Linked DNA regions of Homo sapiens: region 2 is linked to region 1. Evidence: fine-mapped expression QTL. A gene starts in region 1. The other region holds a variant in brackets. All regions are shown on one strand. Distances are from middle to middle. Region 1 holds the start of OR52K1 (olfactory receptor family 52 subfamily K member 1). Region 2 holds the start of TRIM21 (tripartite motif containing 21).

The links.
Region 2: its variant is fine-mapped to the expression of OR52K1 in whole blood (TOPMed, PIP 0.95).

Annotation. Positions count from the first base shown.
Region 1 is chr11:4,479,624-4,485,016 of GRCh38, reverse strand. OR52K1 (olfactory receptor family 52 subfamily K member 1) reads right to left here and starts at 2,371. Exons shown (of 2, transcript NM_001005171.3): 1 at 1,841-2,371.
Region 2 is chr11:4,390,964-4,396,356 of GRCh38, reverse strand. It overlaps TRIM21 (tripartite motif containing 21), which reads left to right and starts at 2,655. Exons shown (of 7, transcript NM_003141.4): 1 at 2,655-2,724. RefSeq lists enhancers at 2,475-2,534, 2,555-2,764. The variant T/G (reference allele first, on the strand shown) is at 2,321.

The DNA of each region.
Region 1 (5,393 bases):
AGAGACAGGCAAAGCCTGACTTGACTGAGTTAGAATAGATAAGAGGGGAATTGAAGTTTGTTAACATGGCTAACTTTTTTGAGGAATTTGGAAGCAAAGGACAGCAAGTAAATAGGGCACTGGCTAAAATGGAAAGCGAAGTCAACTGTGTGTGTGTGTGTGTGTGTGTGTGTGTGTGTGTGTCTGTGTGTTTTAGAACAGAAGTATCATGTCTTTAGCTGAAGCAAATTATCCAGTAGTAGGGGAAAAGTTGAAACTTAGACGAAGAAAGAGAATACTGCTCCTGAAAAGACCGTGAATATTGCATCTTTCTAGGTGGTCTGCTGGTTGATCATTGAGAATATAAACATATCCTGAAACAAACACAAATTTACATACCTTACATTCCTTGTAAGCTCCAGACTAGGATATCCAACTCCATACTCGATATCCCCACATATCTTCCTCACAGATATGTCAAACCTGCCATGCCTGAGGCAGAAATCATGACTACTTCTCTTCTTGTGCTGCCCATATCTCAGAACGTAACATCCTGCCCAACCAGTTGCTCAACCTAGAATCAAGTCATCCTGGATTCTTCTCTTTTCTTCCTGCATCATATTTAATCATCAGCAAGCACACTGGATCATCCTACATAGTAAATCTCCACGTTGCCCATTGCGTTTCCAACACTTCCACCCTTCCAACACCATCACCCTTGTTCAAGCCACAGCATCTCCCAGCAACTACTGCTACAAAAGAATCCTAACAAGTACACAAAGTTCCACTTTGTTCTCCAATATTTATCCTTCAACAATTACCCACCATATCATGAAGTGAAGGGACTGGAGTTAAGAAACTCTACCTATTTTCCTTCTGTAAACCCAGCCTCTAACATACATAGGTGTGGAACATTTCACTAAATAAAACAGACTACTAGATTATTGGAAGACATATTTCTCAGAATACTACTCCCCTCATGTGATTTAAGCTCAGAATTTGGGTTATCTTCTCATTTAAAATGCATCCAGAATGGAGGTTCTAAGCATCCCGATTACAATACTTTGTTACCTGCATCAGAATAAAATTCTCTTCTTAATGGAAAATACTATTTTAAATATTCATAATGTTTGTGCATTTTTGTCAGGAACAAGCTCTTATGACAACAGACATTTTTATTTTCAAGTACATATCAGTACCTAGAAACATGCCTGGCGTCTAAGAAACTCTTCTAAAATACTGTGAAATAATCCCACAAACCTGCTGCATCTTTACCTTATCTCAATATGTATTTTCCACAAAACCCACATGTTTTACTTTGAGTCTCCATGTCCCCCTAGATTCCTCCATTCAACTTTTAAACATCACTAACCACCCTGTGAGCTGTCTACCCATCTTCATACAAGAAAAAAAGGCATCTCTTCTATCAGATTTCTTCCTGAAAAGACAGGGTGTCTAATAGTTCATAAATCTTACTTCCTTTGAAGTTCATCTAAAATCAACTCCTCAGAATGAAGTGCTCTGAGTAGGAGTGTGAATGGAGCCAGTCTTCTTCCCCTAATATCCAGAAACTAAGACCTCCTCTGTAGTGCAAGTTTTGTCCAGACTGTTCATTGTTTTCAGAACTAAGATGTCCATGCTCAAAGGATTTATCTTCTATTTCTCCTTAAAAAAGGCCTCTGTACCCAGAATGGACTCAATTAATACTGAATCTATTTGGTTGCCTATACCTTTATCTTAAAAGGATATCAGAATGACATATCTGAAAAACTTAGAACCAGACAAGGAAGGATAATCACATAATCAAGATACTTCAGGACTGCTTCTGGTAGAAGAACCTCAAAGATAAGGTATTTCTTACCTTTCCCTGCCATCTTTCTAGTTCAGGCCTCGTTTTCTTCCTCTTGACTAATGCAGAAGCCCTTTAACTGGGATGGGGCATTTGCCAGGGGTTAGAAAAAGCAATGACAGGAGGTGAGAAGTGACAGATCCAAACTGGAATAATCAACTAAGACTTCTTGGAGATGGCCCACAGTGTTTGGCATAGGACGGAAGCAGGCATCCTCTGTGGTGGGGAGAGCATCTGGAGTTTGTGTACCAAACAGTTGGGTGGGACTATCGAGACTTCTGTTCCCTCTATTGAAGGACCAGAGTAGAAGCAATAACAGGGTTGGAGAGCTGATGCCTAAGATCAGGAATGGCTATGGGAAGAAATTGACAGTGCCCCCACCTTCCAGCTCACTCCCACCTTCCTGCTCACCCCAATAACATCACTTGTTTTCTATTTCCCTAAGTTGCAGCTGTATCCACAGTCCTCAGTCTGACTTACAATCCTGGGCCCTTTTCATTAGCTTCATGCAGCACCAGTGCCGCCTTCCTCTTTCAGTCTAAGGAGTCTTAGAAGGAGGAAGCTGGGAAGCGAGCAGCTGGCTTTAATCCTCACCAACCTCTGCCCTTCTCCCAGAAGGCTGTGGAAGCAGAAACTGCTGCACTTGAGCAGAGTCCTCAGAGACATCTCTGGCCTCCTCTCTCTGGGTTGATGCAAGGGGACTTCCCCTGACCCAAGGGGACTGTATCCTTGTTTCCTACAACCCATGCCTCCTCCCCAGCTAGTGGCACTGAGTTGTGCCTACCAGGGGTCATGCCCTACTTGCCAGAGGCTGTGAGACTTTCAGGTGGAGCTGGCTTGTGTCTTGGTGTTTGCTGTGCCTCTCCTTACTCTTTATCCTTACAGTGTCTTCAAAGAAAGCCAGCCTCATCAGAAAATATACACTGCAGGCAACTCCTGTCAGAACTGACTTGAAAGGGCAGGGAGTCCAGCCTGACCAGGCCAAGGTCATCCATTAGGCATTTTATTTTGCATTCATATTTCATATTGGCCTGAGATATGCATTAATAACCAGCTCGTGAACTTGATCTGGCACCTGTCTGATCCCTGATCTATTTTTCTTATCTCTAAGGTAGAGATAACTTTTACAATATTTTCTAACTCACAAGGATAGGAGGATCTAAGTAGATAAACAAGAGGCCACTATGAATGTGATTCCTTATTAATAATTAGGAAATTACCAATCATCTATAAATGATAAAGAGTGATCTTTCTACCTACAGCTGACTTAATGTGTGCTATTTTTCAAGGACCTGAGAAGATGCTTTTCACTAGAGTTCTCCATGGATTTTGTCTACCCTAATTCCCCATAATTTTTAAAAGCAATCTCAGAACGCTGTAACTCAGTCATCTCACTCCCTTCCCACACAGGTACCCTGGAACTAACTTCCCCTTCTGTAATAGTTGGCCCTCAAGGGTGTGGACTCAGCACTCCTCCATGATAAGTCTGATCTTTTGGGATGCTGGGATAAAGTGGAATTCCTACATAGTTTTAACAATGTACAGCTAGGCCAAGGGGATACAGCCTGTATGAAAAGCACCTCACCAAAACCTAATATGGCAAAAGCCAGATAAAAGCCAGACAAGAGCCAGATAGAATAGACAGTGTTTTTGTGAACAAAGCACCTTAATTTGCCCCCAACTCCATTCTGAATGGGCAATCCTGACATCATAGGAGCAGGATAAGAAGCACATGGAGTGGGGGAGTGGGCAGTGGGGCCATTGGCTCAAACCATGCTGGAGATAACTGCTGGAATATTGGAACACTTAGACTGTTTAATTCATTGACATCCTCCCCACCCTATCTTTTCTTTTGTAAAATCTAGATTCTTTTACATTCATATGCATCTTTGTTTTGGTGTTCTTCATTCCCTCCAGGTTTTTCATGTTTCCATCTGGATCATTTTTTTTCTGCATGAAAAACTACTTTTATTTTTGCTTTTATTACAGGCCATATAGTGACACATTCCATCAACTTTTGCTCATTTGTAAAATTATCTTAGTCATCTTTGTTTGTGAAAGATGACTCACCTCCCGGGCCTCTGTCTAAAATTCTATTTCAATTTGAATAGGTTTTTAAATGGGCAATTCTTCTTTCATCCACTTTAGTATATTAATTGTATTCTGCCTTCACTTGCTTTTTTTGAAGTCAAGTATCTATTAATATCAGTCTTATTGTTGATCCTGTGAATATAATGTGCCCTACCCATACCTGGGTGCTGCTTTCTTTTTTTTTTTTTCCAGTTAGCTGTGATCACACAGAACATTGTAGGCCTTTGTATCAGTCTGTTCTCACACTGCTATGAAGAACTACCTGAGACTGGGTACTTTTATGGAGAAAAGAGGTTTGACTGACTCACAGTTCCTGCAGGCTGTACAGAAGCATGGCTGGGAGGCCTCAGGAAACTTAGTCATGGCAGAAGATGAAGGGGAAGCAAGCAGGTCTTACCACAGCGGAGCAGGAAAAAGGGAATGGGGGCGGGGCCATACGCTTTTAAACAGAACATCAAGGGGGAAATCTGCCCCCATGATCCTATCACCTCTCACCAGGTCCCCTCTTCTGACATGTGGGGATTACAATTCGAGAGGAGATTTGGGTGTGGACACAGAGCCAAACCATATCAGCCATGTAAGGATTTCACTTTGCAAAGGTTCATAATTTCTCTCGGAATAAAAGCCAAGGTTGAGCAGTGAATTGACATTATTTGACATATGTTTTTTAGATATTGCTTCTGACTTAATGGGAACAGCACAAGATGATGAGGATGAAAGCAGAGAAAGGATTACAGATGCTATTGTAGGCATCCAGAGAGAAGATGGTGTTTCCAAATCAATGTGTTAATCATATATATGGAGAGAAATCAGATGTATCAGATTTTATATCTATTTTTTAAGTGCCAGTGGGAATTCCTGAAAAATTAGCTCCAGGCTGTGAGAGAAAAAGAAATCAAAGATAACACCAAGACTCCTTGCTTGAGGAACACGTAGGTGGGAAGGTGTTGTGAGGGTTGCTAGGCAGAACAGGATCCTATACTCAAGCATTGATCCTACTTTAAGGATGATGTGCACCTCTGTGTCCTAGCTTGGAATGTTGGGATGACCTAGTTTTTGAGTGATTAGAAGTATTGCATCTAGGCCTAGATAACTGCATCAAGTTTCCTTTATCCTAATCTATATACCCATCTATATGGGTATAAAATTATATGTGCCTGTAGGCTACTCATATTTCTTATTCATGTTTTGATTGTGTGCTAAACTCAAATGAGCTCATAGAGAAGGTAATTTTCCTTTTACTATTTGTGACTAATCCTGGCTGTGCTAATGTTATGTTGATATATTACCTGTCTATGGGATCCTTATACTACTGGACTTGTTCTGGGAACAAAATTATTTCTTCACTGGGGATAGATATGACCTTAAGGATGATGTTATTCCCCGTATAAGTCAATGGGAAAATAAGATTTCTCTTGTTGGAAATACCTTTTAAAATTCATGCTCTTTTCCATGTTTGTTTATATGTGGTTAC
Region 2 (5,393 bases), 89 kb after region 1:
CAGTTAGAATGGCGATCATTAAAAAGTCAGGAAACAATGGGTGATAGACAGGATATGGAGAAACAGGAGCACTTTTACACTGTTGGTGGGACTGTCAACGAGTTCATCCATTGTGGAAGACAGTATGGTGATTCCTCAAGGATCTAGAACTAGAAATACCATTTGACCCAGCCATCCCATTACTGGGTATATATCCAAAAGATTATAAATCATACTGATATAAAGACACATGCACACATATGTTTATTGTGGCACTATTCACAATAGCAAAGACTTGGAACCAACCCAAATGTCCAACAATGATAGACTGGATGAAGAAAATGTGGCACATATACACCATGGAATGCTATGCAGCCATAAAAAAGGATGAGCTCATGTCCTTTGTAGGGACATGGATGAAAGTGGAAACCATCATTCTCAGAAAACTATTGCAAGGACAAGAAAACCAAACACCGCATGTTCTCACTCATAGGTGGGAATTGAACAATGAGAACACATGGACACAGGAAGGGGAACATCACACACTGAGGCCTGTCCTGGGGTGGGGGGAGGGGGGAGGGATAGCATCAGGAGATATATCCAATGTAAATGAGTTAATGGGTGCAGCACACCAACATGGCACGTGTATACATATGTAACAAACCTGCATGTTGTGCACATGTACCCTAGAACTTAAAGTATAATTTAAAAAAAAATCTAAGGCCTCAAACTATGAAACTACTACAAGAAAATATTGGGGAAACTCTCCAGGACATTGGACTGGGCAAAAATTTCTTTCAAATATTCCATAAGCACAGGCAACCAAAGCAAAACTGGACAAATGAGATCACATCAAGTTAAAAAGCTTCTGCACAGCAAAGGAAACAATGAAGTAGAGAGATAACCCACAGAATTGGAGTAAATATTTGCAAACTATCCATCTGACAAGGGATTAATAACCAGAATATACAAAGAACTCAAACAACTCTATAGGAAAAAAATATAATAATCTGATTCAAAAATGGACAAACGATCTGAATAGACATTCCTCAGAAGAAGACATACAAGTGGCAAATGGATATATGAAAATGTGTTCAACACCACTGATCATCAGAGAAATGCAAATCAAAACTACGAGATATTATCTCACCTCAGTTAAAATGTCTTTTAACCAAAAGAAAGGCAATAACAAATGCTGGCAAGGATATGTAGAAAAGGGAACCCTCATACACTGTCAATGGGAATGGAAATTAGTACAAACACTATGGCAAACAATTTGAAGGTTCCTCAAAAAAAAAAAAAAACCTGAAAATAGAGCTACCATGTAATCTAGCAATCCTACTGGATACTGCTAGGTATATACCCAGAAGAAATACTGTTAGGTATATATCCAAGAGAAAGGAAATCAGTATATCAAAGAGATATCTGCACTCCCATGTTTATCGCAGCACTATTCACAATAGCCAAGATTTGGAAGCAACGTAAGTGTCCATCAACAGATAAATGGATAAGGAAAGTGTGGTACACATACACAATGGAGCACTATTCAGCCATAAAAAGAAGGAGAACCTTTCATTTGCTACAAGATGGATGGAATTGGGGATTATTATGTTAAGTAAAATAAACCAAACACAGGCAAACAAACAAATTGTTATGTTCTCACTTATTTGTGGGAGTTAAAAATTAAAACAATCCAACTCATGAAGATAGAGAGGATGATGGTTACCAAAGGCTGGGAAGGGTAGTGGGGAATGATTAATGGGTTCAAAAATACATGAGAGAGAATGAATAAGATCTAGTATTTTATAGCATAACAAGGTGAATACAGTCAATGATAATTTATCATTTTAAAATAACTAAAAGCATATAACTGGATTGTATATAACACAAATGATAAGTGCTTGAGGTGATGGATAGATACCCCACTTACCCTGATATGATTATTACGGATTGTATGCTCTACCTGTATCAAAATATTTCATGTACCCCACAAATATATACACCTACTATAGACACACAAGATTGAAAATTAAAAAAATTACTTTGGTAAATTTTATGTTCTATATTTTTACGATTAAAAATAAAAATAATATAACCTGAGAATGTCCCTAGCTCAGTGACAAGAACACAGTTGGTTGTCAAATGTCAATTTCCTTCTCACCACTCACTGGTGGGACACTCACCTTGGGGTCATGCGAAATAAATCACTCACCTGCAGGCGTTAAAAAATATTAGTCACATCAGTCACATGAAAATAATTAGCTTCTGGAAGTAAGCAGATGGTGGCACGCGAGGAAGAGCACCGGCCACTCTTCTCTGCATCAAAACTTCCTTAAAAGCA[T/G]CTTCCAGACATGGACATAGCGTCTAGGTGTGGAGTGATGACCAGTGTCAAAGAAAGCAGCCCGGACTCCCCCGTCTTGTAGATATTTTACCAAATCAGATAATGAAGACATGGGAGGGAGCGCGCAACCAGGACCACGGGCTACTGAGTTTCCACTCCTTCCCAGTCTCAGAGAAGCCTCCTGGGCATGCAGAGCCTCTGAAGCCTCCCCCAGCTCAACTCTGACTTCTCTTCTCAGCCGCATTTCTCCACACACCCTTTCAAGGCTCTGCTCCTCCCACTGCTCCTCCCTCACTCCTCCCACGGCTCCTCCTCCTCCCTCCCCTTTCCTCTCAGACTTGCTTCTGAGCGGAAACTGAAAGTGAAATAGGGAGCTGGCTACCAGCGTTGAGTCCCCTGTAAAGGTGAGTGAACCCCACTAGATCAAGGGACCCCTGCCCTCCTAGGGGACCTCTCTCCCCTGCCCCAGGGTTGCAGAGCCCCTTCCAGTCTCCATCCTTGAGCCGGTCCCATTTGCCCCTTCTCCCACCAGGGATCCCTCAACCCAAGACCAGCTGCGCTTCCGGTGCTGGCCCCCTGCTTGGGAGGAGGCTGGGGTGTGGACCTGACTGCCGAGTTACCCAGAAGGGGAAGGGGCCCGGCTGCCCCCTACCTGGGAGGAGGCTGGGTTGTGGACGTGACTGTGGAGTTACCCAGAAGGGGAAGGGGCCCGGCTGCCCCCATGCTGGCACCTGACCTAGGATGACGGCTGGGTGTGGCTGGGATAGCCAGGACTACAGCCTAGCCAGGAGGGTAGGGAGCCCAGTGTCGGGGAGGTCTGCAATTCTGGAGACTCCCAGGTCCAAAAGTCCTCCAGAGGTGAGAGGGGCAGGCTGTTTAGGATGTTCAACCAGAAATGTATAGGCCTTCAGAATTATTCTTTGTCCTAGAATAAGTGTTGTCAGGAACTAAACTAAGTTTGGAGCAGCTGAGAAAAGAGCCCAGGGAGTGCTGGCCACGGTTCCTGTTACTCTGTGTGTATACATACATATACACCTACATACATATATGCAACTGACTTCCGCCGTTATAGGAGGGATTAATGAAGATATATTCAAAGCATGAAGTATCTCTGGCACATGGAAGGTACATGGTAAAAAGTAGCTATAATTTCTCAGCAACATGGAGGCCTGTTGGTACCCGACAGGAGATGGATGAGCACTGAGGGTTTAAGCAGGAATGGACATGATGAGAGTAGAACTGTCAACAGCTTTATGAGGTTCTTGCCAATTTTCATTCCCTCTTTTAGGGACTCAGTTTCTCCTTCTGTCTCACTGGATCAATGGACCAAACAATGGAGGAGTTCTTGTTATTCAGAACAGGAATAAACTTATTCAACAAACTGTTTGATCGGTGCAAAAGTAATTACTGTTTTTGACATTAATTGTTTTGCCATTAATTTTATGCCTTGTTTTGTTTTGTTTTGTTTTTGAGAGGGAGTCTCGCCGTGTCACCCAGGCTGGAGTGCAATGGCACAATCTTGGCTCACTGCAACCTCTGCCTCCCAGGTTCAAGCAATTCTCCTGCCTCAGCCTCCCAAGTAGCTGGGATTACAGGTGCCCACCACCACTCCCAGCTAATTTTTGTATTTTTAGTAGAGACAGGGTTTTACCATATTGGTCAGGCTGGTCTTGAACTCCTGACCTAAGGTGATCCACCCACCTCGGCCTCCCAAAGTGCTGGGATTACAGGTGTGAGCCACCGTGCCTGACCCATTATTTTTATTCTTATTTTTTATTTTCCTTTGCATCATTTTGTTTTTCTTTTTTTAGTATATTTTTAATTTTTGTGGGCACATAGTAGGTATATTTATGGGTATATGGAATATTGTGATACAGGTATACAATGTGTAATAATCACATCAGGGTAAGTGGGGCATCTATCACCTCAAGCATTGATCATCTGTAATACAAACTATGCAATTATACTCTTATTTTTAATGTACAATTAAATTATTGACTATAGTCACCCTGTTGTACTATCAAATACTAGATCTAATTCACTCCACTTTTGTACCCATTAACCATCCCATCTTCTCCCCCACACACAGACCCTCCCTATTACTCTTCCCAGCCTCTGGTAACCATCTTTCTATTATCTAACTCCATGAGTTCAATTGTTTTAATTTTTAGCTTCTACAAATGAGTGAGACCATACAATGTTTGTGTTTCTGTGCCTGGCTTATTTCACCTAACATAATGACCTCCAGTTCCATTCATGTTGTTGTGAATGACAGGATCTCATTATATTTTATGACTGAACAGTACTCCATTGTGTATACATACCACATTTTCTTTATCCATATATCTGTTGATGGACTCTTAGATTGCTTCCAAATCTTGGCTATTGTGAAACGTGCTGCAGTAAACATGGAAGTGTGGATATCTCTTTGATATACTGATTTCCTTTCTTTGGGGTATATGCTAGCAGTGGGATTGATGGATCATATGGTAGCTCTATCTTCAGTATTTTGAAGAACCTCCAAACTGTTCTCTGTAGTGATTGTACTAATTTACCTTCCCACCAACAGCATATGAGTGTACCCTTTTCTCCACACCCTCACCAGCATTTGTTATAGCCTGTCTTTTGGAGAAAAGACATTTTAACTGAGATGAGATTATATCTCATTGTAGTTTTGATTTGCATTTTTCTGATAATCAATGATGTTGAGCAACTGTTCATATGCCTGTTTGTCATTTGTATGACTTCTTTTGAGAAATGTCTGTTCAGATCTTTTGTCCATTTTTGAGTCAGATTATTATTTTTTTTCCTATAGAGTTGTTTGAGCTCCTTATATATTCTGGTTATTCATCCCTTGTCAGATGGATAGTTTACAAATATTTACTCCAATTCTGTGGGCTGTCTCTTCACTTTGTGGATTGTTTCTTTTGCTGTGCAGCACCTTTTCAACATGATGTGATCCCATTTGTCCAAGTTTGCTTTGGCTGCCTGTGCTTGTGGGATATTTGAAAGAAATCTTTGCCCAGTCCAATGTCCTAGAGAGTTTTCCCAATGTTTTCTTATAATAGTTTCA